Linked DNA regions of Homo sapiens. The protein of the gene in region 1 purifies or fractionates together with the protein of each later gene. This does not show direct contact. Each region holds a gene or a part of one and is shown on either strand. Other genes may lie near its edges. The genes, in order: BCKDHB and DBT.

The links.
Region 2: the proteins of BCKDHB (region 1) and DBT purify together in Homo sapiens (affinity purification with mass spectrometry; 2 studies listed by BioGRID and IntAct, with this or other methods). This does not show direct contact.

The regions. Positions count from the first base shown.
Region 1 is NC_000006.12:80,099,277-80,111,159, forward strand, and holds the start of BCKDHB (2-oxoisovalerate dehydrogenase subunit beta, mitochondrial isoform 1 precursor), read left to right. Parts: upstream 1-7,394; 5' UTR 7,395-7,417; coding exon 7,418-7,613; intron 7,614-11,883. UniProt on the Homo sapiens protein: Together with BCKDHA forms the heterotetrameric E1 subunit of the mitochondrial branched-chain alpha-ketoacid dehydrogenase (BCKD) complex.
Region 2 is NC_000001.11:100,238,366-100,249,807, reverse strand, and holds part of DBT (lipoamide acyltransferase component of branched-chain alpha-keto acid dehydrogenase complex, mitochondrial isoform 1 precursor), read left to right. Parts: coding exon 1-38; intron 39-722; exon of another isoform or gene 723-909; intron 910-5,205; exon of another isoform or gene 5,206-5,265; intron 5,266-8,923; coding exon 8,924-9,047; intron 9,048-11,442. UniProt on the Homo sapiens protein: The branched-chain alpha-keto dehydrogenase complex catalyzes the overall conversion of alpha-keto acids to acyl-CoA and CO(2).

The DNA.
Region 1 (11,883 bases):
GGATATTAGCATGTTTGAAAGCTCCCTAGGTGATCCTAACGTGAAGTCAAGGCGGAGCACCACTGGTCCAGGGCTTACACTGTTTGAAAAAAAAAAGGAAAGAATCAATTGCTCTACTTAAAGTCTCATGTGAATTTGGGTAGGTTAAATGTGTGCATCATGTGACATAGGCTGACTTCTATTTTACCTGTGTTTAGGAGTGGCTTTACATGGTGAGGAAATCAAATTGTCAAGGGTCTTTGGTGGTGACCACTGCCTGTCTGCCCCTTTGCTCTTCTCTCTTTTTCCACACTGGTCACCACCTGGTGTTCCCAATAAAGTTTGTGATGGAGGTAAGGTAAGATATGGGTCTCAAATTTCTTTTGTCCCAATATTCACAATTATGTAAGCCATAGTTTTAATTAAGCTTTGAGAAACCTAGCAGTACTCATAAATTACCTGGGGAAGTTTTAAAAAATCACTACTGCCGGGCTGGTATGTATTTTTACAGATGAGTAGCTCTCTCTAAAACACTGTTATACATACAGGCAGATATTAACATTTGTAGCCGTTTTCTGAGCCATTGATTGTATCTAAATCCTTCCCCTGGGCTGAGCCCAAACTTCCAATAATGTCACTTTTTGATGCCCTTTCTTCAGTGACTGGCTTACACGGCTTCTGTCTACATAGCATGGTTCAAAGTGCTTGGAAGACTGATCACAGTGCATCTCAAGCCCCTGCAGGAGATAAGAAGCCAGAGAGAAGTTGCCAAGATGCCGAGGAAGGGGAAGAAGGAATAACTCACATGCTGGATGGGACAGCTGGCTTAGACCAGGGGTTGGCTTAAAATAATGTTGATTGAAACACTGTCTCTGGCACATGCAAGGCTCTCAGTACACACTAGTGAATAGTAGAATCAGAATTCTTAAAATTAGAAGTACGCTAAACCACCTGTAAATGAAGCATAAATCCTCCCAAGAGGCTCCCTCAATAGTGTTCATCCATTTCGTGCTTGACTATTTCAGTAATAGAGAATTCATTACTTCCCATGACAGTCTACTTAATAAGAAGCTCTTTATATTACACTAGAATTTGCTTCTTCCTGTTTCTTATTCTTCCCTCCGGAGCTAAATAGTAAATTTAACCCCTCTACAAGGGAGCCCATCAAACTTTGAGGGAGAGTTAATACATCACTTTTAAAATCTTATCTAGACCAAATATCTCTAGATTTTTAACCCTTCTCCAAATGACTTTAGGTCATATTTGAAGAAATCCACAAAACACTTTATAAAAACTCTTTAACCATGTAAACATCCTCCTAATAGTTTATCAAAAGCATCCATAGTTTATCAAAAGCATTCATCCAGTTAGCTTCTGTTCCTGCAACCAAGTCTCTGACTGTTATGCCCCTGTCCCCTGAAAGATATGTTGAGCTTGACACTCCCCTACCCCCAAACCCAGTACCTAACCCCTGGCCCTCAGAATTTAAGCTTATTTGGAAATAGGGTCATGGCAGATGTAATTGATTAAGTTAAGATGAGGTTAGATTGGAGCAGTGTGGGCTTCTAATCCAATATGACTGGTGTCCTTATAAAACGATAGCTGTGCAAAGATATGGAGACGGCATGTGGTAACAAACGCACATACTGGATTTATGCAACTGCAAGCCAAGGGATGACAAAGAATTCCAGAGAACCAACAAAAGGGAAAAGAAGAATTTTCCTACAGGTTTCAGAGGGCGCATGGTCCCACTGACACCTTGATCTTGGACTTGATCAGAATCGCAGACAATACGTTCCTGCAACCAGTTTGTGCTGCTTTGTGACAGCATCCCTAGGAAACAAATACATTGGCTTTGAGTATATTCTGGACTTTCTTTTGATTCCAACAGGATCATTCCACTTAGTAATTCAGTGAAGTAAGGAAAATCAGGGAGCTTTTCCATTATCCCGAGTCCTTAGTTGAAACCGATTTCATATGAACAGAGTCTGTGAACTAATACACTGGATGTTAAACATGCTGTAGGGGGAATGAATCTCTTCATCAACATATTTAGATGGGCAAATATAACTTTATTTTTCTGTAATTTAATTTTTAAATAATAGTGCTACTGATATATAATTTACATATCATGAAATTCATCCTTTTAATGTACAATTCACTGGTTTTTAGCATAGAGCAAAGTTGTGCAACCATCAACATTACTTAATTTTAGAACATTTTCATCACTCAAAAAATAAACTTTAGGCCGGGCGCGGTGGCTCACGCCTGTAATCCCAGCACTTTGGGAGGCGGAGGCGGGCGGATCACGAGGTCAGGAGATCGAGACCATCCCGGCTAAAACGGTGAAACCCCGTCTCTACTAAAAATACAAAAAATTAGCCGGGCGTAGTGGCGGGCGCCTGTAGTCCCAGCTACTTGGGAGGCTGAGGCAGGAGAATGGCGTGAACCCGGGAGGCGGAGCTTGCAGTGAGCCGAGATCCCGCCACTGCACTCCAGCCTGGGCGACAGAGCGAGACTCCGTCTCAAAATAAATAAATAAATAAATAAATAAATAAATAAATAAACAAACTTTATATCCATTAGCAGTCATTCCCTACCTCCTGTCTCTGTTGATTTGTCTATTCTGGACTTTTTATAAATGTAATTGTATAATATATAGTATTTTAAACTGGCTTCTTTCACTTAGCGTAATGTTTTCAAAGTTCATCCATGTAACACTACTTAATTACTCTTTATTGACAGATAATATTCTATTTACAGATATATCAGTTTTGTTTAACCATTCATCATTTCATGGGTATTTGGATTGTTTCCACTTTTTTGCTATTATGAATAGTGCAGCTACGAATATTTGTGTACTAGCTTTGGTGAATACACCTTTTCATTTTTCTTTGTTATATACTTAGGAGTGGAATTGCTGGGTCATAAGATAATTATGTTTAAAAAAACAAAAAAGGAAGAGAAATAGAAGAACAAAATTAAAAAGATAACTGTGTTTAACATTTTGCGGAACTGTTTTCCATAGCAGCTGCATCATTTTACAGTCCCACCAGTGATGCACAATGGTTCCAGTTGCTATACAGCCTCACCAACACATGTTATAGATTTCTTTTTATTTTAATCATCCTAGTGGATATGAAGTGGTATCTCATTGTGGTTTTGATTTGTATTTCTTTAATGACTATTGATGTTGAGAATCTTTTCTTATGTTCATTGGCCACTTGCATATCTTCTTTGGAGAAATGTCATTCAAATCCTTTGTCCATTTCTTTAAATAGGCTATGTTTTTTAGAGCAGTGTTAGGTTCACAAAAAATTTGAGAGGAGGGTACAGAGAATGTCCATATGCTTTCCCCAAATACAGAGCTTCCTTAATCATCAACATTTGCACTGCAGTGGCACATTTGTCACCATCAAGGAACCTACATTAACACACAGTTGTCAACCAAAGCCCATAGTTTACATTAGGGTTCACTCTTGGTGGTGTACGTTCTATGCATTTGGACGAATGTATAATGACATATTTATATGTCCACCATTATAATATCATACAGAATATTTTTCCTACCCTAAGAATCCTCTGTGATTTTCCATTTATCCCTTCCTGCTCCCAACCCTTGCAACCCCTCATCTCTTTTATTCTCTCCATAATTTTGCCTTTTCCAGAATGTCATATAGATGGATTCATATAGTATGTAGCCTTTTTAGATTGGCTTCTTTCACTTAGTCATATAAATTTAAACTTCTTCCATGTCTTCTGATGGTTAAATATTTTTTTTTCTTTTTTTTCTTTTTTTTGAGAGTCTCACTCTGTTGCCCAGGCTGGAGCACAGTTGCGTGATCTGGGCCCACTGCAACCTCTGCCTTCTGGGTTCAAGCGATTCTCCTGCCTCAGCCTCCTGAATAGCTGGGACTACAGGTGCACACCACCACGCCCAGCTAATTTTTGTATTTTTAGTAGAGACGGGGTTTCACCATGTTGACCAGGCTAGTCTCAAATTCCTGACCTCAGGTGATCCGCCCGCCTCGGCCTCCCAAAGTGCTGGGATTACAGGCATGAGCCACCACACCCAGCTTAATATTTCTTTTTAGTGCTGAATAATATTCCATTAAGTTTATTTGGTTGCTTCCAAGTTTGGGCAATTATGAATAAAGCTGCTGTAAATATTCTGCACAGGTTTTAATGTGGACATACATTTTTAGCTTATTTGGGCAAATACCAAGCAGCACTACTGCTGGATTTCATGGTGAGAATATGTTAGTTTTATAAAAAACTAAACTGTGTTGCAAAGTGGCTATACCATTTTGCATTGCCACAATCAATGAATGAGAATTCTTTGCCCATTTTCTAATTGGGTAATTTTTCTTTTCTATTGTTGCGTTTAAGACTTTCAATCAGTATATTCTAGACACAAGTCCTTATCATTCTGATTGCTGGGTCTCCTCAAGTTCCCTGGATCTTGTTGCCATAGCTGCATCTCTCTTGGCCACATGGGAGAAGCATCCTGCTGTTTCAAATGCCATGACATGCTGGGTAGCCTGAGGATTTAGTGATACTTTTCTAGGTTCATCTACAAAGGAGGATACCTACAGGTCTTTCTAATCTATAGCTGTACCTCCATGGAAGGTGAGACAAACCATCTCTTATACTGGTATGTGATTTACAATCTTTTCTTTTAGCCCTAAGCTTTGTTTCCTAACTCATTCAGGTTTTTGAGGTTTAATACTCAGAAACCAGTCTGTAGAATTCAAACTTTTCTCTCAAATTATTGTCTCTGCTATCAAGTTTAAAATCTATTTTAAAATTCAAAAGCAATAATTTGATTTCTTTTTTTTCTGCCTCCATGATACCTCTGTTTGAGTTTGAAAGGAGGCAGATGCCAGGATGTAATACTGCAAAACTATCATCTTGCTATATAAAATGGTCGTCTAAAAGCAAGCTGAGACTAAACAGGTACAAGTTGCACAGGTAGTGAAGCTCAGTGAGAGCAAGTGATGCAAGAGTCATTCTGAAGGGTGAAGAGCAACTTTGCTTTGTATTCCAACTCCATAGTCATGGGTTCTGCAATTGGAAATAGCTTAAACAAAGAGGGGAATACATTTTAAGGATACGGTGATGTCTCATAGAACCCCAGGACCAGAAAGCAGTTAGGCCTTGGGAATAAATGGAATCAGGAACTCAAATATAATCACACTCTTCACCTTTTCTGGTTCACGAAATTACTGAAAACTCCCATTTTTTGCAGTTCCTAGTGGCATTTAAAGATAATCTGATCTTTCTTTCTAAACTACACTTCCAAAATTCCCAGAAAAGGACAGTTTCCCAAATTGAGTAAATGTGGCCAGGGCAAGGGGAATGGAGGAAAGTCCCACTGTAATAACATAGACATTTTCATGGTTACCAGGCAAATGGTGTGGTAGAGATGGGGAAAATTTAAAAAATCAGTTTGCAAAACAGGTGAATCTGGCAGGTGCTCTGTTTGTTTTTCCTGGCTGCATGTAGTTGAAAGTTCAAACCTCTTAGACCTTCAAAATCTCCCTTTAATCTGTTTTTCCTACTTTTTCTGTTAACCCTGTATCATTCCCTACACCCTGAATCTAGAAGCACCAAGCTATTTTCTCTTCCTGGAATGCACTGTGCTCTTCATGCCTATCAGCCTTTATACAGGTTTCTTCTTAGTTTGGAATGCCATTTTCTCCCTAGTCTGCCTGGTAACTTCTAGTCATCTTTTAGGTCTAGCTCAGAGTTATATCTGGAAACACTTGACTTTCAAATAAGAGTTTATTGCTCTTTTTGTGTTTCACTTTGTTTGCACTATTCTAGGACTCCTATCACATTGGATTGTAGTTGCCTAATCTGTCTCTTTTCTCTACCACCTTGGACATTTTAGAAGTAAAACTATGCCTTGATCTTATTTGTCTCAATGGTGGCTTGTCATTGGGTTGTACGTAGCAGAGGTTCAATAAAATTCTCATCAGTTATTATTTTTCTCTTTTTCTCCCCGACCTAAATAATCTCAGTACCCCCAGCTCCCTAAACTATCAACAAATAGAAAAAAAGCTCTATTCATTTTTATCCTTGTTCTTTACTCTCCTTAGTTTAAACCCAAATTTGACTATGTAAATGTAATTTCATTTTGTTACCCCTTCCTTCATTAAAACAAAAATACCCTTCATGCACATGCAAAACACTCTACCCCACACTATTAAAACAGCAGAAATGAACACTAACAAAAGCCAAGATAAAAAATTTCCCCAATGTTGAATTTTTGGACTTAGTGTGGGGGTAGGAAAAATGGAGACATAATTCTGGTTCTCCCTTTGGCAGTTTTCAATTGCTGTTTCTTAATCTCAGTCAGAAAACACATTTCTCTGCCTCTCCTTTTGCCCCATTTCTACCCTCTCCTCCCTTGCCCCTGTGCAAAACCAAAGATGGGTTAAGAGGCAAGGCATAATGGAAGAGGAATGTTCTTTTCCTCCACTCCCACTTTCTTCTTCAAATTCTGTTTTGGGACCATCCTTCCCCACCCTCCCATTTTCATCTGATGGACACACTGTCTCTGTTGTCTCTTGTCATATTTGATTTTATGATATTTCATGTTTTATGTGCTTTTTTTTTTTTTTAGTAAATTCATGGACAGAGAATGTATCCTGGTAAACACTTAGATTAAAACAAATTTACATAGTTGATTACTATAAATGAAAATTAGTGACTCAAATTCTCCAGGTTTCTAAGCTACTTAGACTAAGCCAATCAGGTAATTTTTGCTACTTCTGGGCAAAATGTATCTGAATTCCTATTCAGTGGATTTGCAGGATGAAATCTAAGTTTACCTCTTTCATCTCTCATTTAAATGTGGAAAAACGAAATCAATAAAAATCTATATATGCTTATTAAGCATTTTAAGGAGGGTGTGAATAAGGAGTGAAAGCTTTGAGCAGTGACTACAGCAGTTTTTCGAAAGTCAAAACAATAACCAATGCCAATCAGTAGCTCTCTTCACCTCTCACACAATAATAGAGACAGGACAGGATAAAAAAGGGTTACATTTAAAAAAAAGTATGGATGTTAAACCATTGGAAATGGCACTGTAAATGACACCGGAAAAGATCGCCTCCAGGCACTGTGTGGAACTTTGCAAACTCGGGTCCTCACCCGAGGACCGCACGGCCGACCTCGGGGAGGCTCCACCCCAGAAACTATTTCATTGGCGCCACCTCTAGCCCACACTTCCCCTCTTCCGCATGCGCACAAGGAGCAGAAGCCGACCAGCTCGTCACGTCGCCTTCCCCGCCCCTAAATTTCCAGTTCCGATTGGTCTGTTTCATGGGACCGCCCCTCTGGCCCGACCAATGTGGAAGCCTCCTCGGGTGCTCCGCCCTCCCCGCAGGCGGCGTGCGGCTGCATAGCCTGAGAATCCCGGTGGTGAGCGGGGATGGCGGTTGTAGCGGCGGCTGCCGGCTGGCTACTCAGGCTCAGGGCGGCAGGGGCTGAGGGGCACTGGCGTCGGCTTCCTGGCGCGGGGCTGGCGCGGGGCTTTTTGCACCCCGCCGCGACTGTCGAGGATGCGGCCCAGAGGCGGCAGGTGGCTCATTTTACTTTCCAGCCAGATCCGGAGCCCCGGGAGTACGGTGAGCCCTGGGACTGCCCACTCGGTCCCGCTGCAGCCCGGACTCCCAGGCTCGCAGGCGCCCGCGAGGGGCAGGGGCCGGCAGGCTGCAATCCTTGCATCCCAGCTTATTAACTTCCTGACTCTCTGGAACCTCCTTGCCTCAGGGTCTAACTGTGGTTCACTTCTTGCTCTATTTTTGTGACTGTTCAGCCCTCGAGACGCAGTCCCCCCTCCCCCGCAACTTTGAGATGGGTGAGAGGGCATACTGCCACCTGGAAGAGCCTGAGGGTGGAGGGGTGGTGCCCAGGGAACGCCTCCCTTTTCTCTGTCCTCCGTCCTTGCTTTCTCAACCCAGGCCTTAGGTGTTGTTCCAGCCTGGCCAGGACTGGGCCACTAGCTTAGGTAGAGGCATTTAAAAGATATATATATATGTTTATATATATATATTTTAAATGTATATTATATATATTATATATAAAATATATATATGTATATAAAATCAATTCAGTTACTCAGTCCCTTGGTTTCTTCTTACATACAGAAATTGTGTGTATGTGTGTGTGTGTGTGTGTGTGTATATATCCACACACATATATATATGTGTGGATATATATACGCGCATATATATGCATATATATGTGCGCATATATATATATATGCATATATATATATGCACACATATATATGCATATATATATGCATATATGTATATATGTCCCTTGGTTTCTTCTTACCTACAGAATTCTGAGTAATTGAACTGATTTTCCCAAGGTCACAGAACAGGTCCTTCCTAGAGATGTGAAAGAATTCAGACTTTCTACTTGAGCTTAGTACTGAGCTTGTCCTGGGCTATGCTGCCACTTAGCCAAGGAGGTGAAGGGGATGAGAGGAGGAAGCCATAGGAAGGGCATGTAGCAAACTCCTCATAGTATGACTGTTGCATGATTTTTACCATTTCTGCAAGTTTCATGTAATGTCTCTCATCAGAATATCAGATCCAGTGTCTCTCTTCAGAATATCAGGAAACTGTAGGGAAACATGTATTGCTTCCTTGTCTAATAACTTCTCATGTGCATGCTAGAGCTGACATTTTTGGAAGTGTGTCTTGTGGATAAGAATGAACAGTTATTGAGTGCTTACCAGGGTCAGGTGCTGTGTGTATGTTTCATCATCTCATTTAAGGGTTAGGACAACCTTAAAAGGTTAGTAAAGTTTTTATTCCCATTTTGCAGTTAGGTTAATGGAGTCTTGAGACAGTTTGACCAAGATTACACAGGTAAGTTAGTGGTAGCTCCAAAGCTCCAGCTTTGGAATCTAATTGATCAGATTCCAGAGCTTCCATTCTAAACAATGTACTAAGATGCGTGTAGATATAATTTACTTGGAGGGCGTCCCAGTATTGTGAAACAGTAGGTACCATAAAGGTTAATAGTAGGTGTTTTTTTTTTTTTTTCCACCACCAAGATGAGCCCTCAATTCTGTCTTCAAAGCAAATTCTGTCTTCAAAGCAAAGAAATTTTGGTCTAATACTTGAGAAATAGTCCAACTTTCCATAGTTGTAAACTTACTAAAATCTAAGTAAAATGATATCATGTTATCATGATATATATCATGATATATATAAACTTGTTCTTATTTTAAAAATAATACAAACATATTAACAGATAATTTGGATAATGGATAAAAAGTAAAAAAAAAAAAAAAAAATCTGCCGGGCGCAGTGGCTCACGTCTGTAATCCCAGCACTTTGGGAGGCGGAGGCAGGCGGATCACCAGGTCAAGAGATCGAGACCATCCTGGCCAACATGGTGAAACCCGGTCTCTACCAAAAATACAAAAATTAGCTGGGCGTGGCAGCGCATGCCTGTAGTCCCAGCTACTCGGGAGGCTGAGGGAGGAGAATCGCTTGAACCTGGGAGGCAGAGGTTGCAGTGAGCTGATATCGTGCCACTGCACTCCAGCCTGGTGACAGAGCAAGACTCTGTCTCAAAAAAACCCCAAAAAACCAAAAAACAAAAATCACCACCCACTGCAGTAAATATTGCTAACATTTTGGGTGTATCCTTACAGGTATTTCCTTTTAGTTTCGTATTTTCCATACTTTTAGTTTTAATACAAATACAACTTATTTAGTCGGAAGAATTATCCTACAATTCACTGGAGTTTTTATAACCTTCTTGAGAATTTAGAAGAACTGTTCCATGGAGTAGAGATGCTACAAGTCTTTTACAAGTTAAATTCTTGACCCCGGAATCAGATTGTCCTAAGTTTGATCTTGCCTTGGCTGTCTATAACTTTGGAGTTACTACTTATCCTCTGTAAGCCTCAGTTTCTTTATATGTAAGGGGTTAATAATAATACCTACTTCAGAAGGTTGTTGTGAGGGCTACATAAAACAATGTCTATAATATACTTAACACTGTTTGACAACTGAGAATCAAGCATTCAGTCAATAAGTGGAACCTTTAAATAATTACCATTATGTTTTTGTTGTTAAAATTTTGCAATTTTGTAAATAATGCAGATACAAGCATTTCATGCATATGGGTTTTATGTATCTGAGATTATTTCTTTAGGATAGAGTCCTGAATACTTTAATGGATTTTAAGTGCATAGTTCAAATTTATACCCATTTATACCCCATAATATGTATAATAGTGTGAGTATTGGATATTAATGCTAAAATTAGGTGTGTTCATGTACACTCTTGGATATTTTGTGCTAACTGTACTTTGTTTTAATTTTTGTTTCATTTCTGTTGAGGAATATTTTCCCATGTTTTTGTTAAATTGATTTATTTTTACTTAAGAATTGAATATTAGATGTATTTACATATTTTTAAAAGTATACTCAGTATTTTTCCTATCAATACTATCTACGATTATTGCATAGCTGCTCTTTTCCAGGTGTTGTGTTAGACATCAGTTTATAATCCTCACAGTAACCTTGTGAACTAGACAATATTATGCTCATTTTAAAGATGAGAAAATTGAGGCTCAGAAATGTTAGTACTTACCCAAGTCTGGTAAGTAGCAGAGCCAGAGTTTGAATCCTGATGTGTCTTACTCCAAAGCCTCCCACACTACTTATATACTAAGATTTTGTCTGTTAAAAAATATTGAAGAACATACTAACTTTCTGCTTTTCACATGTCCTGCAAATACTTTTCACTCTTTTATTTTGGTTGTTTTGACATATAAAAGGTACTGCTTAAAAGGAGGTAGTCAGATTAGACTCTGAGTTGGTGACACTTATGCTGCTTTATGCTGGCATGTTTGCTCCCTTTATTACACTGTGTTGTTCTCTGAGAACAGTTCATCCTGGCTTCTCCATGCCCCTGATTCTTGGGCATTGTATGGATGTGAGTTTGTTTATTCAGTCATTCTCTGCATTTTTATTTTCTCCTGGATGCCATACTCTCTGCTAGCTGCTAAGGATGTGATCATGGACCTGTCGGAGGGTAATCTGAACCTTCGTTTTGGACACTTGGTATCCCCTATCTGCCAGGAAATTCAAACTTTTTGTAGTTTTTTCATCCAGGATTTGGCTATACACAAGGAGGTCATCCATATACTGGAGTATACTCCCATTTCTTAATTAATTGCAGACCCCTCAGATTCCTCTCTAAGGCCCAGGCAAAGCAATGGGGGCTATCCTGAAAACCCTGAGGGAGAACTGTCCAAGTGTATTATTGTTTTTCTCTGGCATTAGGATTTTCCCATTCAAAGGCAAAAAGGTATTGGGATTCTGGGGCCAGAGGAATGGAAAATGAAGCATCTTCTAGGTCTAGGACTGAGAACCATTTAGCATCCCTTGGCACCTGAGCCAGGAGGGTATATGGATCTGCCACCAATGGGTGGACCTACCAGTGGGTCTTAAGAGCCCAGGGGTAAGTAATACCTTAGCTGTGGATGCTTGGCCTTTCCTTGCTTCCAGCTTAATTGGGTATTGTTTTTGATTGGGAAAATAAATAGCTAGGGGTCTTTAAGCTGTATTTTGGCTGGCACTGCTGTTTTAGCCTTCCTTGGTTTTCCAGTATACCATGCCAGTGTGTTAACCTGTTTATTAATGTGGTCTGGGACAGTGTCTGTATTTTTGACTATTAGCAATTTCACCAGATGATGCTTAAATTGTAGTAGTGCCCCTATTTTAACCATAATATCTCTTTTTAACAGGGGGCCTGGGCAGCTTGATACTACTAGAAATTACTGTTGGAAGATTTGTTTCTCAATTTGACAAATCAAAGGAGGAATAAAGGATCTTACTTGTGGCTTTCCTTCCATTCCCAT
Region 2 (11,442 bases), on another chromosome or scaffold:
GTATGCTGAGAACCTGGAGCAGGAATGCGGGGAAGCTGGTAAGCACGTTTGGGCAGATCTGAGGCCGGGAAGGAGTGATTTGTCCGGAGTCATCCAGGAGTGGTGTTTTACTTTCTCCTCCGGTGCCAGGCGTCCAGGGCACGCGTGATGGAGAGGTGAAGGGATGCATGCAAAATAAAGGGCAGAGAACGGAGCGAGTCGACCAGTCTGGAGTGGAAACCCACTCCCTCCCCTTACCTGGAAGCGCTTCTGCAGCGACTCAGCCGTCCTGCTCCATCTGTACCCCGAGGCCCAGCTAGCGTTTTATTGAGCGCCTTCCAGGTGCCCAGGCATTGTGATAGGCGCTGTGGATCCAGAGATATATTCGTTTAGCATTTATTGCGTACCCACAGTATGCCAAACACTGGTAACACGACCCCTACCCTCAAGGAATCTACAGTGTGTAGAGGAAGAGGCCGTTCAAGTTATAGAATATCAGCAGGGGTCCCTGCTTCCGAAGAACTGAGCAGCTCGGCGTCACTCTTTTGCCTTGTACTTCTATGTCCGCACCACATATCATTCCTACCCTTTTGTCACCAAGGCTGTGACCCATCACCATCTCCCCTGCACTTCCTTCTCTTTCTCCCAGTCTTAGCACCAAGCACTGACACATACCGGTAATGATACTTGTTACCCCTATTTGCTTAGTGTTTCTTCTTCCTGCCTCTTCTCCCTTTCCCTAGATGCTCCTGCCTTGGTGACCCCGATCTTACAAAAACTTTCAAGAGCCTGCTATGTACCAGTGCTGTGTTAGGCACTGGAGATACAAATATGAAATAGACATCATATCTTCCTTCTCAAGAGATTACAACCTTGTGGTGGAGGACAAAGGAGAGGGAGACAGATAGAAATTACAACCCAGCATGAGAGGTACTGTGATGGGACAAGTGCCTAGAACTACAGGAACACACAGGAGTGGACACCTATGGTGGACTTGGGGGTCAGAGGAGTTCCCAGAGGATACTGTATGACTTGAGATGTAAGAAGGATAAGTAAGAGATAACCAGGAGAAGAGAGCTCTTCTCAGCAACACTTAACACATATTGGTCTCTCTTCTTTCTAGAGCTTTCCATTCTTGTTTTCTGTGACACCAGTTTCCCAATATTATTCTTTCTTCATCTTTGGCCACTTCATCCCAATATCCTGTTTCCCTTCCCGCCTTTTAAATATTGCTTTTTCTAAAGGGCTCTGACTTTGGCCCTCTGCACTTTTCCCACTTTCTGGGTTATCCCATCCACTCTTTGGCTTTAGTTACCATCTATGCTGATGAGTCCTAAAGTTCCCCAGTCTTCCAACCAGGTCTACTCCAAACCCATATATCCTACTGTCCTGGAAATCTCCAGTTTCATATGTACGTGATGTTTTCCAGCTGCAATTAAAAACCCAACCAATAAATAGGAAATTAAGTATCCATGCATACAGAGCATCCCCAATTAGATGTCAGCTCACATTAAGTGGCTTATGATTATCAATGTCGTCATTTCCCTAGTAGTTCATTTGTCCTTTTCCTACTGTATACAAGAGGGCTGCTACGACTTCTTCTTTTATGTTGAAGGCAGGAAGGTGGAAGAGGAGGAGGTTCCAGTCTCACTGGCCAGAACTGTGTTACATGGCCCCGGCTAGCACAAGGGAGCTTAGAAAAACTTGTCTTTTTTTTTTTTTTTTTTGAAATGGAGTCTCTCTCTGTCACCCAGGCTGGAGTACAGTGGTGCGATCTTGGCTCACTGCAACCCCTGCCTCCCAGTTTCAAGCGATTCTTTTGCCTCAGCCTCCCAAATATCTGGGACTACAGGCACACGCCACCATGCCCAGCTAATTTTTGTATTTTTAGTAGAGACGAGGTTTCACCATGATGGCCAGGCTGGTCTCAAACTCCTGACCTCAAGTGATCCGCCTGCCTTGGCCTCCCAAAGTGCTGGGATTACAGGATGAGCCACCATGCCCAGCAGAAAAGCTTGTCTTTAGTCTTCTCACAGTGTCTGCCGTAAAGCTTCAAAGCAGGTCAGACTCTCCAGCCTCTAGAACTGAACCCTCAAACCAGTTTCTCTTAATTTTTTTTTTTTTTTTTTTTGAGAAGAGTCTTGATCTGTTGCCCAGGCTGGAGTGCAGTGGTGCAATCTCGGCTTACTGCAACCTCCACCTCCTGGGTTCAAGTGATTTTCCTGCCTCAGCCTCCCAAGTAGCTGGCACTACAGGCGCGAACCACCATGCCTGGCTAATTTTTGTATTTTTAGTAGAGACGGGGTTTTGCCATGTTGGCCAGGCTGGTCTTGAATTCCTGACCTCAGGTGATCCTCCTGCCTTGGCCTCCCAAAGTGCTGGGATTACAGGCGTAAGCCACTGCCCCTGGCCCAGTTTCTCTTGATTTGAGCCTGTAATTCTCTCTGAAGAAATCTAGTCATGATTTTTCCACCCTGCCCTCAACTGGAGGTGTCTTGGCCCTTCTTAACTGGATTATATGCCTCCAGTGGTCTTGTAGTTTTTCCAACCCATTCTCCATAGTGTAGCCAGAGTGATCTTATAAAGTAAGAGACATTTGATAATATCATTTTCTTGTTTAAAACTGCCTTCAGCAAAATGTCCAAAATTCAAATGACTATGAGGCAATTTATGATCTGGACCTTTCCAGTCTCTTAGATCTCATTCCTTACCAAAACCTACCCATCCCAACCCCAACTCTGACACTTCCCCACCCTTATTCCACACTAAACTACACTAGAAGTCTGTTGAACAACTTGAGTTATTTGCACACACACTGTGCTTTCTGTCTCAACTCCAGACCTTTGCACATGTATTTCCTCTGCTTTAAAGACTCTTGCCTTACTCCACTGTGGCCTTATCTGCAACATACCTCATCCCCGGGGTTACACCTACTCATCCGTCAGGTCTTACTTCAACATAACTTTCTCCAGCTAGGTTCCCTTAACACACTCTATTTCCTTCATTATAGCACGTGTTATAATCACCGGTTTACTTGTCTTTACCTTTCACTGTACTGTGCATTCTATAAGGGAAGAAATTGCATCTGTTTTGTTCTCTGTATAATCCCAAGTGCCTGGCACATTGTAGGTGTGCATAAATATTTTTTAAATGACTCAGTAAAAAAAAAAGTCAGGTTTGTAAACTCTTCTAAAAAGTTGTAAGCAAAAACAGTTCTTACCCCCGTAGTAAATTATTAAAATAGCCTTATAATGTTGTGTTTTACATTTCCCTAGGACATAATGCATTTGACTCTTGATTAATCATGCCATTTGGAATTTTTCTGTTGTGTCTGTCTTCCTGTAGTAAAGTGTAAGCAATTTGAATTCAGGAACTATATATTGCATCTTATTTAGCTTTGCATTTCCAAGTCCAGTACAATGTCTGACTTTAGGAGTGCTCAACAGCTGCCTATTGAATTATTATTAAATATTTCCTTAATACGCTACTTTGGTGAACAGTTTCATTTCCCTTTATGTTCTTCTGTCCTGGTTGTGATATTGAATTATTAATTTTTTATTTTTATTTTTTTTGAGACGGCGTCTCACTCTGTCACCAGGCTGGAGTGCAGTGGTGCAATCTCAGCTCACTGCAACCTCCGCCTCCCGGGTTCAAGCGATTCTCCTGCCTCAGCCTCCCAAGTAACTGGGCAGGCACGCGCCACCATGCCCAGCTAATTTTTGTATTTTTAATAGAGACGGGGTTTCGCTGTGTTGGCCAGGATGGTCTTGATCTCTTGACCTCGTGATCCACCTGCCTCAGTCTCCCAAAGTGCTGGGATTACAGGCATGAGCCACTGCACCTGGCCTAATTTTTTATTTTATTTATTATTATTTTTGAGACAAGTTCTTGCTCTGTTGCCCAGGCTGGAGTGTGGTGGCATGATCTTGGCTCACTGCAGTCTTGACCTCCTGGGCTCAAGTGGTCCTCCTTCCTCAGCCTCCCAAGTAGCTGGGACTACAGGCATTCACCACCACAGCCAACTAATTATTTTGATTTTTAGTAGACAAAGTCTCAATGCATTGCCCAGTATGGTCTTGAACTCCTGGGCTCCAGTGATCCTTCTGCTTTGGACTCCCAAAATGTTGGGATTACAGGCATGAGTCACTGCACCTGGCTGAATTATTTTTAAAATCAAGGAAAGACCTATTTTAGTCAAATAATTGCATTAAGACTTAGACTACACGTATAGTTGTTCAACCAGGATGTATTTGAGAATGAAAATGGTGTTATTAATAATTGCCTTGAATCACTAGAGGTGAATTGGGTGTCACCTCAGGCAAATTGGTACAGATGGTCCCCATAGAACTAGGTGTCTTTAGTATTGTTCATAGATGAATTTAGAATTGCTTCAAATATAAAATATATAAAACTGATAATTCCATAAGCATGCCTTTTTAAAATTGGAGGTTTAAAGCCTTATGCTTAATTTACTAGTCTAGCTGGGTGTGGTGGCTCACACCTGTAATCCTAGCATTCTGGGAGACTGAGACAGGAGGATTGCTTCAGCCCAGGAGTTTAAGACCATCCTGGGCAAAAAAGTGAGACCCTGTCTTTATTTTATTATTATTATTATTATTTGAGATGGGATTACAGGTGTGAGCCACTGCACCCAGCCAACCCTGTCTTTGAAGAAAATTAAAAAATATAATTTACTAGTCTAATAGTCTGTTTCTAGAAAAAAAATTTAGAATTCTAGCTTGAAAAATTATTTCTTCTCCTCTTTCCTGTTGCCTGTTAATCCATCTATTCAGCAACTTCACAGTGTTTTTAGCCTTCTCCTCAGAGCCATTCAATTACTATTATATTAATCATATACTGCCTATGGTACTTTTGTTGCTTTTTTTCTTTTTCTACTATTAATTACCTCAGTCAGGAGCCTGTTGCTTTGTGTCTCAAATACTATACAGTACTCTCCCCTTCTTATCTGTGGTCTCAGTTAGCCATGATCTACTGTAGTCTGAAAATAGGTGAGCACAGTACAGTAAGATATTTTGAGAGAGAGACCACATTCACAAAACCTTTATTACAGTATATTATTATAATTTTTCTATTTTATTATCAGTTATTATTATTACTGTCTTACTGTGTCTGATTTATAAATTAAACTTTATCATAGGTATGTATATATAGGAAAAACACGGTATATGTAGAATATGTAGGATTCAGTACTGTCCATGGTTTTAGGCACCCACCGGGGGATCTTGAACGTGTCCACTGCACATAAGGAGATAAGAGAGGAATACGGTAATAGTTATTTTTTTAAAAAAATCCTTTTTTGATAATTTTGGTATGTAATAGTTTCTTGACTTCTCCCTTTCTCTCCAGATTTTATCTGTTATAATCTATTCAATAAACCACTACTAATTTCCTAATCCTTTTTCTTCAATAACCCATAATGTATGAGTTCAAACTCCTTATACTGACATTATAGTCATCAACCATTTCCTCCTTGAGCTGTTTCCATTGCTCTCTTTTATACCTTTGGTCAAGCCAAATCAAGCCGCTCAATGTCCCAGCAGATATGCTAAGTCAATTTCTGCTGTAGTTTATTTATGCTGTTTCCTCTGCCTTAAAAGTGCCCTTCTGCTCTTTTATTATGTATGCTTATTATGCACAGTGCAGCTTAAATCTTCCTCCAAGAAGCCTTCCCAGGTCACACTAACGTGAAAAAAAAGCCCACCAGACCCCTCTACTTAAACTCCTTTTTTTTTTTTTTTTTTTTTGAGATAGAATTTTGCTCTTGTTGCCTAGGCTGGAGTGCAATGAGATTACAGCTATGAACCACTGTGCCCGGCCTGCTTAAACTCCTTTATCACGTACTGCCTATGTCTCTTTTTTTTTTTTTTCGTAAACCTATGGACTATATTAAAGAAGCCTATGCCTCTTATTACAAAAAGTTAGAGCATGCATGTCCATGCTTGAGTGTGTTTGTATGTGTGTTTATTTTCTCACATACGTTGTAAACTCTTTGAAATTAGGGATTATTTCTCCTATTTCTAGGGTCTTTGACATCAAATTTATTTAGCTTCAGAGCTCGATTGTTCCACTTATTTGCTGTGTGACCTTGGACAAATTACTTCACCTTTCCCATCAGTTTCCCGTGTGTTGAAGAGGGCTAACGTGTATGTTCCACAGGGAAATTGTAAATGTAAAGATGATGTCTGGGCCGGGCACCATGGCTCATGGCCTGTAATCCTAGTACTTTGAGAGGCCAAGGTGGGCGGATTGCCTGAGCTGAGGAGGTCGAGAGCACCCTGGGCAACATAATGAAACCCCGTCTCTACTAAAATACACACAAAAAAAGTTTAGCTGGACATGATGGCACATGCCTGTAGTCCCAGCTACTTGGGAGGCTGAGGCACGAGAATCGCATGAACCTGGGAGGCGGAGGTTGCAGTAAGCTGAGATCGTGCCACTGCACTCCAGCCTGGGTGACAGAGTGAAACTCCATCTCAAAAAAAAAAGAAAAAAAGATGATGTCTAAAAAGGCTATTTTTCTTTTTTTCTTTCTTTTTTTTTTTTTTTTGGAGACAAGGTCTCTCTGTCACCTAGGCTGAAGTGCAGTGGTGTGATCTTGGCTCATTGCAACCTCCGCCTCCCAGGTTCAAGTGATTCTTGTGCCTCAGCCTCCCAAGTAGCTGGGACTACGTGTGCCACCATGTCCAGCTGATTTTTGTATTTTTAGTAGAGAGGGGGTCTCGTCATGTTGACCAGGCTGGTCTCAAACTCTTGACCTCAAGCAATCCACTCACCTCAGCCTCCCAAAGTGATGGGATTACAGGCCAGAGCCACCATGCCTGGCCTGTCTGAAAAGAAAGTACTCAGCACATGGGAGGCACTCAATAAATGTTAAGCGTGGTGGTTTATGCTGCCCCGACCCATGAATAGTTCAATACGAGTTGTGTTGTTGTTGAAGGTAAGACCTTCTAGTAGTTTAATTTTCTTTCAAATGTTTTACAAATATGAACAATTTTATTTAAATTAAGGTGAATCTATATACTTCAAAACTTTCCTTTATTGTCCCTAAGTTTTATGTCTGATGAAACAGAGGTTGATTCACTCCTTTGATTTTATTGTTGACCAAGAGTCAGGATTATGGGAGCTGAAGGAGAAAGCAAGGACAAACAAAATGGAAATGTTTGGGAAAGAGAATTCTTTTATTGTCTTCTGGTTTTAAGTTATCAATTTTAATTATTTTAGTTAGGCTTTATATTTCCTGAATATTAATGTTAGTAAAAATAAAATGTTGATATTATAAAGACTAGTCGATTTAGGGTGATCTCTAAAGTTAAGATGAATGATTTAAGATTATTTATGTTTTAGGAAAGGGATCTTCAGTTTTTCTTTGCCTTCAGAAATCAGTAATAGTTTGAAATTTAAAGTAAAAAAATAAGAATTTAAATGTATTGTTCTTGTCAGTAAACCAAACTTTTACTTTTATATTTGCTATCAGAAAAAAACAAAAATTCTAGTTTATAAATATGTATTAAAACATGACTGTACTATATGATGTTTATTATAACATAGCCTTTAAAAGTTAAGAGCTAATCACCACTAATGTACATGATTTTTTTTTTTAAGTAAAAGTGACTCTGTTACATACATGAAAAAGTTTCACTTATCAGTATTCTTATACTAAGAAGGTTAGAAATTTCTGCAGAGAAGTAAGCTCAGGGCTTTAAAATTAAATAAGTAAATAAATTCTGTAGTTTATGTTTACAGTATGATGTAGTTAAGTATTAATAGCATTGAAATTTTTTTTTTTTTGAGATGGAGTCTTGCTCTGTCACCAGGCTGGAGTGCAGTGGCTCGATCCCGGCTCACTGCAACCTCTGCCTCCCGCATTCAAGCGATTCTCCTGCCTCAGCCTCCCAAGTAGCTGGGACTACAGGCGCATGCCACCAAGCCCAGCTAATTCTTTTGTATTGTTAGTAGAGACAGGGTTTCACCATATCGGCCAGGCTGGTCTCTTTAACTCCCTACCTCGTGATCTGCCCACCTTGGCCTCCCAAAGTGCTGGGATTACAGGCGTGAGCCACCGCGCCTGGCCTAATGGCATTGAAATATTAACTTTCCAAATAAGATATTATGGCCTGGCATGGTGGCTCGCACCTGTAATTCTAGCACTTTGGGAGGCTGAGGTGGGAGGATTGCTTGAGCTCAGGACTTCAAGTCCAGCCTGGGCAACATACTGAGACCTTGTCTCTACAAATAATAAACAAAATTAATTGGGTGGGGTAGCATGCGCCTGTGGTCCCAGATACTTGGAAGGCTGAGGCAGGAGGACCCCTTGAGCCTAGAAGGTCAAGGCTTCAGTGAACTGTGATCGCACCACTGCACTCCAGCCTGGGCAACAGAGTGAGACCATGTCTCAAATACACACACACACACACACACACACACACACACACACACACACAATACCTTTCAGACACTTAGGTTTTGATATATAGAGTTGAATACATTTGGGCCTACTTATTTCTATAAGAGATTTTAAAATAATATTATACTAAGGTACTATGTAAAATAGTTAATTCTAAAGAGTCATCTATAAGTTACTATAAGTAAACTTTGGGGTATCATACTATACAAGTTTTTCATTGTTTTTAGATGCTAACTATTACTTTAGAATTCTTTAGTAGTTTTAGTTCAGGAAGTCCAATGACTTAAGCATACCTATAAGCTGATGTATTTATACAGAATACACTGTTAAAATGTCTTTACTTTCAGAAGGAATTTTGGGTAAGGATCATAAATGTAACAAATCTAAATCTAAGGATATAATATTTCTATTGTGACAATGGTTCTACTTTTAGAATGGAATTGAAATTCAATTTATACTTAGAGATAAGCCGGTATGGTTGTTTATAAATGCTTTTACTTTTTGTTTTCTCATCTGTAGATTTGTGTTCGCTATTTTCAAACATGTGGTAATGTTCATGTTTTGAAGCCAAATTATGTGTGTTTCTTTGGTTATCCTTCATTCAAGTATAGTCATCCACATCACTTCCTGAAAACAACTGCTGGTAAGTATGATTTCAAAATAACGTGTATAAAATAATGTTTTGTACCTCATTCAGTAATATTTTTTAGTAGTTGATTGAGACTTTTTAAACAAAAAAAAGTTGACTCTGTATTTCTAGCCGGGCCCTTCCCATCTCCCCACATTTTTCCAGTTCTCACTTTCTTTTTTCTCATCCCTCTCTTTTACATACTTTCCTTAACACTGGCACCCCTTTTTAAAAAAAATTTTTTTTTAGAGACAGGATCTCACTCAGTTGCCCAGATTGGAGTGCAGTGGTGTAATCACAGCTCACTATAACCTGAACTCCTGGGCTCAAGTGATCCTTCTGCCTCAGCTTCTCAAAGAGCTGGGATTACAGGCATTAACTTATCTCGCCCAGCACTTGTGTCTTTATAATATTGGGAATGGGTTGTGTTGGGCCATCTATTTATCATCTGGCTCATCTAAGTGCAATAGTCAGCATTGATATGACTTTCTCAGTCAAGGTAAATTGTTGACTTAATAGAGGTGTCTTTGTGTTGGCATACACATTGTGGTATTGTTTGTTGAAAGAAGCACTTAATCTGTCAAGTGAACATGGTGTGATGAAACCAGCCTGATTTAGTACTAAATAGAAAGTTCCCTGACTTTCACCATTTACTTACTTTTTCCCCAGCTTTTTCTACCCTCTGTAAAGAACTTGAAGGATTAAGTATTAGATTTGGCAAGGGCACAAGAACTGTTTTTTTTCCTGATGTTCTATTTAGAACCCTGATAAAGAACCCTAGACTTTTGTTACACTATTAAGTTTTTGACAGATACATGGGAGCTTAGTTTGTGCTGGGAATGAAAAATGGGGGAATTCCAGGCAGACCCCAAGTCAGCCTTTCCATGCTCTTTTTTTTTTTTTTTTTTTTTTTTTTTTTTTTTTGAGCTCTGTTGCTCAGGCTGGAGTGCAGTGGCACAATCATAGCTCACTGTAACCTCAAACTCATGGGCTCAAATGATCCTCCTGCCTCAACCTCCTGAGTAGCTGGGACTACAGGTGTGCATCACTACACCTGGCTAATTTATTTATTTATCAGGATGTTGTCACAGTGCCCAGGCTGGTCTAAAACTCCTGGATTCAAGAGATCCTCCTGCCTCTGCCTCCCGAAGGGCTGGGATTACAGGCATGAGCCCTGCACCGGCCTTCCATGCCTTTTCTTTTGCTTTCTTTTTTTTTTTTGAGACAGGGTCTCACCTCTCAAAGTGATGGGATTACAGGTGTGAGCCACTGTTCCCAGCCATCTTCCATGTTTTTTCTATGTCATCCTCCACTATAGCCTAAGACATGTAAACTTTACCTTCACTACTTTTACAAAAATTTCCATTTTTTAAAGTTGATCTTTTTTTGTTACTTCCCAGAGAAAATAGAGGTCATTCAAGTAAATACTTCAACTTCCTGGTCCAGTCTGTAAACACTTAGGAACTTTGGGTTGCTGGATACACCAGTTCCAGGCTACTTGGATTCCTGGTCTACAAATTACTAGCAGTGTAACTTTAAGCAAGTTTCACCATCTGGGAAATGGGAGTAATCATAGTATTTAGCTAATTGTATTCTTGTGAGAATTCATTCATTCAACAATTAATATTTATTGATCACCTGTGTTCCAAGGCACTGCTCTAGGTGCTTGGGATATATCAGTACACAAAACAAAGATCCTTATACTTGGGTGGATTAAATAAATTAGAATATATAAAGTACTTACATACTCTAATACTGCTTAGATATACTAATACTGCTTACATATACTAATACTGCTTTCTCTGGATACTTATTAAGGTTTCTCTTCTTCTGCTTCTCTTTTAAACTTCAGTTTTTCATAGGATCCCATCCTTTGCCCTCTCTTCTTGTACTACATCTACACACATGCCTTCAACTCTCACCTCATTGAAGACTTGTGAATCTGTAGCTGTAGCTCACATCTCTCACCAACTCCATTCCAATGTCCCCAAAACTCAGTCTTCTACAAATCTCTTTTCCTTCTGATATTTCCTAACTCAGTAAGTCATTAAGCTAGACTAGCCTAGCTTAACCATTGATATGAGACCCTGCCTCTACAAAAAATTTTAAAAAGTCAGCTGAGCATGGTGGTCCACACCTGTAGTCCCAGCCACTCAGGAGTCTGAGGTAGGAGGATCACCTGAGCCCCAGAGTTTGAGGCTGCAGTGAGCTGTGATCATGCCACTGCCCTCCAGCCTGGGCAACAGAGTTAGGCCATGTCTAAGAAGAAAAGAAAAGAAGAGAAGAGAAGAAAAGAGAAGAAGGAGGAGGAGAAGGAGAAGGAAGGAAGGGGAGGGGAGGGGAAATAAAAGAAAGAAGAAGAGAAGGAGGAGGAGGAAGAGGAGGAAGGGACGGGACTGGAAGGGACGTG